2 separate regions of the Homo sapiens genome follow, and region 1 is linked to region 2. Evidence: fine-mapped expression QTL. A gene starts in region 2. The other region holds a variant in brackets. All regions are shown on one strand. Distances are between the middles of the regions.

Evidence for each region. PIP is the estimated chance that this variant, and not a neighbour inherited with it, causes the effect.
Region 1: its variant is the best candidate, but not a certain one, in a credible set for the expression of PAFAH2 in transverse colon (GTEx, PIP 0.64).

What each region holds. Positions count from the first base shown.
Region 1 is chr1:25,961,044-25,965,433 of GRCh38, reverse strand. PAFAH2 (platelet activating factor acetylhydrolase 2) reads left to right here. Exons shown (of 11, transcript NM_000437.4): 11 at 3,351-4,390. The coding sequence ends at 3,445. It also overlaps the pseudogene RNU6-110P. Among named protein-coding and RNA genes, the nearest start is that of PAFAH2, 35 kb to the left of the region's middle. The variant G/T (reference allele first, on the strand shown) is at 2,503.
Region 2 is chr1:25,995,697-26,000,086 of GRCh38, reverse strand. PAFAH2 (platelet activating factor acetylhydrolase 2) reads left to right here and starts at 2,024. Exons shown (of 11, transcript NM_000437.4): 1 at 2,024-2,062. RefSeq lists enhancers at 1,879-1,928, 1,939-2,028, 2,199-2,278.

The sequences.
Region 1 (4,390 bases), 35 kb after region 2:
TTTTGTGGTACATAAGCTTTTTAGTTTAATTCAGTCTCATTTGTCTGTTTTTGGTTTTGTTGCATTTGCTTTTAAGGACGAATTCTTTGCGTGAGCCAATGTCCAGAAGAGTTTTTCTTCTAGGATTTTTATAGTTTCAAGTCTTATGTTTAAGTCTTTAATCCATCTTGAGTTAATTTTTATATATGCTGAGAGATATGGGTCCTGTTTCATTCTTCTTCATATGGCTATCCAATTTTTCCAGCACCATTTGTTGAATAGGGTATCTTTTCCCCATGTATATATTTTTGTTGACTTTGACAAAGATCAGTTGGTTGTAGGTATGGGGGCTTTATTTCTGGGTTCTCTATTCTGTTTCATTTATCTATTTTTCTGTGTTTATACAAGTAACATGCTCTTTTGGTTACTATAACCTTGTAGTATAATTTGAAGTTGGGTCATGTGATGCCTCCAGCTTTGTTCTTTTTGCTTAAGGTTGCTTTGACAGGCTCTTTTTTGGTTCCATATGAATTTGAGGACTTTTTTTCTAATTCTGTAAAAAATGGCGTTGGTAGTTTAATAGGAATTGCGTTGAATCTGTAAATTGCTTTGAGCATTATGGTCATTTTTAACAACATTGATTCTTCCATTCCATGAGTGTGGGATGTTTTTTCCATTTGTTTGTGTCATCTACAATTTCTTTCATCAGTATTTTGTAGCTCTCTTTGTAGAGATCTTTCACCTCCTTGGTTAAATGTATTCCTAGGTTTTGTTTTGTTTTGTTCTTGTTTTTGTTTTTGTTTTGGTGGCCATTACAAATGGGATTGAGTTTATGATTGGGTTCTCAGCTTGATTGTTATTGGTGTATAGAAATGCTACTGATATTTTTGTTTGTTTCTTCATTTGTTTTTTATAGAGACAGTGTCTCACTTTATTGCCTGGGCTGGTCTCAAACTCCTGGGCTCAGGCGATCCTCCTGCCTCAGCCTCCCAAAGTGCTGGTGTTATAGGCATGAGCCAGTGCACCCAGAAAAATCACCACCACTGATTTTTGTACACCAACTTTGTATCCTGAAACTTTACTGAAGAGTCATTTTATTTATTTATTTATTATTTTGGCTTCCTCAATCATGGTATTATTATTTATTTCTCTTTAAAAATATGGAAAGCTTAACGAATTTGCATGTCATCCTTGTGCAAGCGCCGTGCTCATCTCTGTATTGTTCCAGTTTTAGTATATGTGCTGCCAAAGCGAGCACTGAAGAGTCTTTTCTTCATAGAGCAGCCAGAGTGATCCTTTTAGGAATTTAGTGAGATCTTCTCACTCTTCTGCTCCGAATTCTCCAGTGGCTCCCAGTCTCCCTAAGAGCCAAAGCCAGACTCGATTATCCTGCCAGGTATATGTCATGTGGCCCTCCAGTCCCTCCTGGCCTCCTCCCCTGCTGTTCTTCCCTTGGCTCACTTCACTCTCACCACATGAGCCTCGAACGCGCCAGGCACGCTGCAGCCTTAGGGCCTTTGCACTGCTCCTCCCTCTGTCTAGAACATTCCTCTCAGATAGTCTCGTGGCACACTCCCACTTCCTTCAAGCCTGGCCTCAAATCTCACCTTCTCAGTGAGGCCCACCCTGACCACCCTTTTTAAAACATTGGCCTGGCCAGGCACCGTGGCTCACGCCTGTAATCCCAACACTTTGGGAGGCCGAGGCGGGCGGATCACAAGGTCAAGAGATCGAGACCGTCCTGGCCGACATGGTGAAACCTCGTCTCTACTAAAAATACAAAATTAGCTGGGTGTGGTGGTGCATGCCTGTAGTCCCAGCTACTTAGGAGGCTGAGGCAGGAGAATCACTTGAACCTGGGAGGCAGAGGTTGCGTTGAGCCGAGATTGACCACTGCACTCCAGCCTGGTGACAGAGCAAGACTCCATCTCAAAGAAAAAACAAACAAACAAAAAACATTGGGTCCTTCCTTTCTCCCTTCACTCCAACCCCTGGCCACCACCAGTGCTTCCCTTAACGGGCTCTATTTTTTTTCCATGGCACCTCTCCCCTTTTCACATCCTATATAGTTATTATGTTTATTGTTTGTCTCTGCCACTAGATGATGAGCTCTGTGAGGACAGCAGTTTCCATCTGTTTTGTTTGTGGATATATTTTTAGCTCAAAGAACAGAGTGTGGCACATAGTGGATGTGCTTATTGTTTTTTGAATTAATGACTATGTAGTACTTATACATTGAGGACCTATTCCGTGCCAGGTTCCTGGCAGGGCACTGGGAATCCAAAAATGCATGAGAGTGGTCCCTGCCTTCTGTCCCAGAGTCTGTTTGTTTTGAGGAAGGACACCATTCATCTGCTTAGCTTGCCCTGCTCCCTCAGCCTGAGGGCTTGGACCCTTTGTGCCTGTTCTTGCCGTGTAGTTACCCCTATTGGCTGTGAGCTCAGGGCCCCTTCTTGAGTCATTCCTGGAGTTTCGCTGCTCCATGATGTTGCTGTCCTCTTGCTCCTGCCCTTCACTGAAGTG[G/T]TCCTGGATTTGCACCCACAGGCTGAGCTGTCAGATACTGCTTTTTGCCTAGTAACCTCCTTGAGCCTGGAACTAGACTTTTCATTTTCTCAGCCTTTTTTTTTTTTTTTCTGAGACATGGTCTTGCTGTTGCCCAGGTTGGAGTGCAGTGGCATTATCACAGCTCACTGCCGCCAACTCCTTGCCTCAAGCAATCCTCCAGTCTTGGCCTCCTGAGTAGGTAGGACTTCAGGCACACACCACCATACCTAGCTAATTTCTTAATTTTTTTGTAGAGTTGAGGTCTTGCTACGTTGCCCAGGCTGGTCTAGGAACTCCTAGCCTCAAGTGATCCTCTTGCCTCAGCCTCCCAAAGCACTAGGGTTACAGGCATAAGCCACCATGCCCAGCCCTCTCTGCCTTTCTGACTTGGATTTGAATTCTGTCTCTACCACTTAATAGCTCTAATGACCTTGGGCAACTCAGGTAGCTTCCCTGATCCTCAGTTTCCTGAATTACATAATAAGATTAGTATTAATACTTAGTTCATAGGGATATGGTGAAAATTAAATGAAACCATGAATGTAAAGCATTTAGTACAATCCTTAGAATGAATTCTCCATCAATAAATGTTACCCTCTGTTATTATTATCGTTATTGAATTGTTATGGATTATGTAAGTCATTTATAAAGGCACTGAATAAATGATAGTTATCGTTACCGCCACCACCACACAACCCCACCAAAACCAGTCCTTTTGGTATCCCAGGCGCTCCTCTCTCTAGGATGACCCCTTCAATGCATGTCAGCTACTCTTTGACCAAACCTCACAATGATTTGCCTAATGTTCCTGTTTTTTTCCTTTTCAGACCTGAAAGAAGACTATAATCAATGGAACAACCTTATTGAAGGCATTGGACCGTCGCTCACCCCAGGGGCCCCCCACCATCTGTCCAGCCTGTAGGCACAACTGGCCATTTGTAAAGTCACTTCAGCCAAGTTTTCATTTGGGAGCTACCCAAGGGCACCCATGAGCTCCTATCAAGAAGTGATCAACGTGACCCCTTTTCACAGATTGAAAGGTGTAATCACACTGCTGCTTGGATAACTGGGTACTTTGATCTTAGATTTGATCTTAAAATCACTTTGGGACTGGGATCCCTTGCTGATTGACAAACAGACTTTCTGGGACCTTGATGGAGTGGGGAACAAGCAGTAGAGTGGGACTGGGGGAGACCCAGGCCCCGGGCTGAGCACTGTGAGGCCTGGATGTGAAGACTCAGCCCAGCGAAGCTCATTCCCTTACCCCCGGCCAGTGCTGCTGCTTCAGTGGAAGAGATGAAGCCAAAGGACAGAATGAAAATCCCTACCTTCAGAGACTCTAGCCCAGCCCAACACCATCTCTTCCTACCTCTCAGCCTTCTCCCTCCCCAGGGCCACTTGTTGAAGTCTGAGCACTTTATGTAAATTTCTAGGTGTGAGCCGTGATCACATTTTCTATTTATTTCCAAGTCTTCTCATTGTATGGAACATAGTACTACTTATACTTACAGTAGTAAGTTATACTTGTGAGCCCACAGAGTGGCAGACAGCATGGCTCTCACAGCACAGGGAGAAAAACTGAGGTACACAGAGGTACCTCAGAAGCTCTGGATGTCTTTGGGGGTTTTGCTAAGTGTATCTTGATAGGAAACAACAAAAGCAGGTTGAGATGGGGAAGATGACAGAACAACAGTGTTAAATGGCCATTTGCACAGGCCTTTGCCACAACAGAGAAGTAGTTTGGTCAGCTAAAACTCAGCTGCAGCCTGGACAGTAGAGCGAGACCCCATCTTAAAAATAAAGAAGGCTGGGCGTGGTGGCTCATGCCTGTAATCCCAACACTTTGGGAGGCCAAGGCAGGCAGATC
Region 2 (4,390 bases):
AGCAATTTAGCAACAAAGTAAAGGCCAGAGTTGGGATGGTAGCTGATAGATTTGAAGGGAACTTTGGGCTACTGGAGGATGAGATCTATGATGAAAATGCTGGAAAATCAACCATTTGCTTAAAAAGGTAAAGGCATTTGGGTTGTTTATCCTAGAAAAGACCGGATTGGAAGGAAGTATAGTTAAACTCAACTGTTTTATTTTGCAACAGGGAAGAATCTGATTGTGCCCAAGGAAGAGCTTCCTAACTGTGACAAAGGAGGTAAAGGAGGTGGTGACATGCCCATCCCTGGGAAATTTTAAACTCAGCTGGCCAGCAAATGGCTCCAGCATGGCCTGGTCTGGGAGTAGGAGACTGAAAGAAATGACCTCCAGCTGTCCCTCTCATGACCAAGGACCTCTGGCTTGTCGTGAGTGTTCTGGCCAGCTGCACAGCACGGATTAATGGGCCAAAGGGAGCCGCTCTCTGATCTGCGCTAAGCTTTTCAGGTTCTGTGGCCACCGCCATCAGCCACAGATTTAATGAGATCCGAGGCTTAATTACCACAGTGCAGGGCTGCCAGCACTCTCTCCTGATGACTTTATCTTGGCTCCTGGAAGGATGGGGGTGACAACAGTGTGTCGGCAGGAGAGGAGAGCCTAAAGCAGGGACTCTGGACCCTGGTGTTTCGGGGGGATGTGGGCTGCAAGAGTAGGGTGGAGGGGGCGACTGCAGGACTCAGTACCTGACCTCAAAGAGCTCACAATGTGTCAAGAGTTAAGACCTCTAATACAGGAGATACCCAAGGCAGTGTGAGTCGACTCACATGTGCGAGGCACACACAGATGTCGGCGGAAACTTTGGAGGCATGAACAAAGCTCCCAGAGGAGGGGCGCTGAAGGGTGGGGGGTGGGGCGTGGGGGAGTGCAGGTTGGAGAAGACCTTGAATGTCAGGCTAAGCAGTTGGGACTTCACTTCATAGGTAGTAGAGGGCCGTTGAACGTTTTTGAGCTGCCTGAACGATCCAAATTTCCTATAGAAGTTTACAGAACTCCTGAGGATGGGCTCTGCCTAACGCCCACTCCCCCGAGAATACTCTCCTTCCATCCCTCACACTTAGCTGCAGCCAGCACTGAACTTAATGCCATACTCTGAAACGTCCTTCACAGTCTCTGTACTCCTGGCTACGTTCTTTCCTTATATCGGGTCTCAATGTTAACAAACATCACTCCCTCTAAAAAGCCTTGCGGACACCGCCCTTTTCCCCCAAGCCTGGCCAGAGGCCCCTTTTCAAGGCTCCCACGCTTGCTGTGTCTCCCCATGAGATCACGGCTCTGTGCTGTCATTATTCATTTGTCTGAATTCTCTGCTAGACTGTGATTCTGTTGAGGCTAGGAGCGGTATCTTGTCCATCAGTGTCGCTAAGAACCAGCATTAGACAGTAATGTGGGATGGATGCGGCCCAGCAGATTACTCGGGTTCCTCCCCTTTCTCTGCCAGGGAGTCTTTTGAGGACAATGGAAAATCACAGGTGTCAACAGATGCAGGCTGGTAGGGAATGTCCCCTTAATTTGAATGATCAGTCTATTATTCTTACAGGAAGCAAAGTGTGCAGAAGACACAAAACAAACTCCAACCTCCTCCCACCTCCTTGAGAATAAAGCGAAGCGGGGACCATTTCTAGGCACGCCTGAGGACTATTTGAGGAGGGTGAGGCGGAGGGTTACGCACGGGACTAAGGCAAAACCCTCCGCTCGAGAGCAGAAATCGCGGCGGCACCTCTTCAGGCCACCAGGGGGAGGAATCACACCGCATCCCAGGCCTTGGGCGGTTTCGCACGACCACGCGGGGCTGGACGGTCGCGTAGAACTCTGGGAGGTGTAGTTTTAGAGTTGTAATGCGCAATCTCGCGCACTGTACATCGGGAATTGTAGTTCTAGATTGAGGAACGAGAAGTGCTTCCAAGCGTCCATTTTGAGCCTTGGAAACTACGACGACCAAAGGGCCACGGGTTCATGGGTCGTTTCTCATTTCCGTCGAGTTAAACGTCTGGGGCTGCTTCTGAGGAATCAGCTTGACTGGGTAAGTTTGATTGGAGAAAACACCTATATCTCAATTGAGCTTCCTGCAGACTTTTGTATTCTGGCCCGGTTTGGGGCCTCGGCGTCTCTCAGTCATAGGAATTGCACATTAATCTTCGTCCTTTACGTTTCCTATTCAGACACCTGTAGCCACCCGCTCCCTTGACCCTCCCACGGTCGCCTCGCACTTTTAACGGCCAGTGCCCCTGGAATCCCCACTGAGCTCCCGTCCCAGGACCCAGCCCCCGCAGCCCCACCTTGGACCCCACAGCCCTACCCTGATTCCTCGGCCCTACCTTCACCCTGCAGCCTCACATCCCTGAACCCCGGGCTTCTTTATGCTCCTCCACCCTTTGTGTACTTTACTCTTACTCTCAGTTTTCTGTTTTTCATGGCGGTGGAAGAAGGGTCCCCATTCCTTCTTTCCGATCCGCGATTACCCTGGACTCGAAGTCAGCAGACCCGGTTCTAGGCCAGCTCTGCCTCTCACCCTCTGTGACCTTGGGCAAATCATACAACTCTGGGACTCAGTTTCTTCCTCTCTAAAACGGAGATGACTGTTGCTCCATCAGTCTCAGGTGAGGAGTGTTGAGGAGCCAACAAGCTAGTATGTGTGAAGATGCCTTGTAAACTGTAAGACCTTCACAAGAGACAGAGATTATTTTTATCACAATTATTAATGCTCTGGAACACTCTTATCAGGCCTCTTCTCTAGCTCTGCCACCTTGTTGCTCAATCTCATCCCTCGAGTGCTTGGTGTCTTCATTGTCTACGAGCTGGATGATATTTCCTCACTTCCTCCAGAGACCAAAGGTCAGGCCAATGAGCTTTTAGTCTTCAGAGAGCTTTGTCTGAAAGGAAGCACAAGAGAAGTGCTTATCTTGGACTGTATCTTGAAATAGCCAGTGATGAAAGTGTCACACAGCTGGCAGAGCAGCAGTCCTCTGCTCACCAGAAACAGGGTCCCAGCAGGAGAGGACAGCTGCAACCTAAGCCCCATCCATTCCCTCTGGGCTCCTCTGGGCCTGTTCAGTAGACACTGGCTTTGGTAGGGGTGTCTGAGGCCTGAAAAGGCTGCTGGGAAAGAATCTGTTTTGCCAAAGGGCTTAATCCAGGAAAAATGAGAGACCTTGGCTAGGAAAGAGAGACATAGCATTGTTAATTAGTTCCTAACATTTTATAAGCACTGAAAATGCACCAGGCCCTAGGCAATATTTTCACTTACGAAGTATCCATTTTACGTATAAGGAACTTGAGAGGCATGTAGTTAAAATAATTATAGTTGCCTCCTATGGTTATAGTACCTTCTATCCATCGAGTGCTTTACATGCATTATTTAATCCTCATCAACAATCTCGTGAGTAGTTACTATTTCTTTTTTTTTGAGATGGAGTCTCGCTCTGTCGCCCAGGCTAGAGTGCAGTAGCGCGATCTCGGCTCACTGCAAGCTCCGCCTCCCGGGTTCACGCCATTCTCCTGCTTCAGCCTCCCAAGTAGCTGGGACTACAGGCGCCCGCCACCAGGCCCAGCTAATATTTTGTATTTTTTTTAGTACAGACAGGGTTTCACCGTGTTAGCCAGGATGGTCTCGATCTCCTGACCTCCTGATCCGCCCGCCTCGGCCTCCCACCGCGCCCGGCCCATAGTTACTATTTCTTTTTGAGACAAGACCTCGCTCTGTCACCCAGGCCGAAGTGCAGTGGCACAATCTTGGTTCACTGTGGCCTCCGGCTCCCAAGCCCCAGCAATCCTCCTACCTCAGCCTCCTGAGTAACTGGGACTGCAGTTGCATACCACCACATCCAGCTAATTTTTTTTTTTTTTAATTTTTTTATAGAGACAGGATTTTGCCATGTTGCCCAGGCTGGTCTTGAACTCCTGGGCTGAAGCAATCCTTCCCATTTGATCTCCCAAAGTTCTGGGATTATAGGCATGAGCCACTGCGTCTGGCCATAGTTATTATTTCTGTTGTGAGAATAAATTATCAGAAGCTTAGAGTTTGAGGAACTTGTTCAAGATCACACAGCTAATAAGTGACAGGGGTAGAATTCAGAGTCATCAAAACCTTTGTCCCCCATTATTTCATATAGCCTTATTTTTAGATCAAAAACAAAGATTAAAGAAGACTTGAGATGGGTTTAAATCATAGCCAAATGAAGGAACATTTATTGAGTCCCAACTATATGGGGAAAGCATGCAGATAGACAGTTTGGTCTACAAAAAAATATAAAACCCAATCTTTACCCCCGGAGTAGATCTGAAGAGATGAGGCATAAGTGTGCCAAAAATTAAATAGTATTCATTGGATAAATTAATTATTGAGACCAGC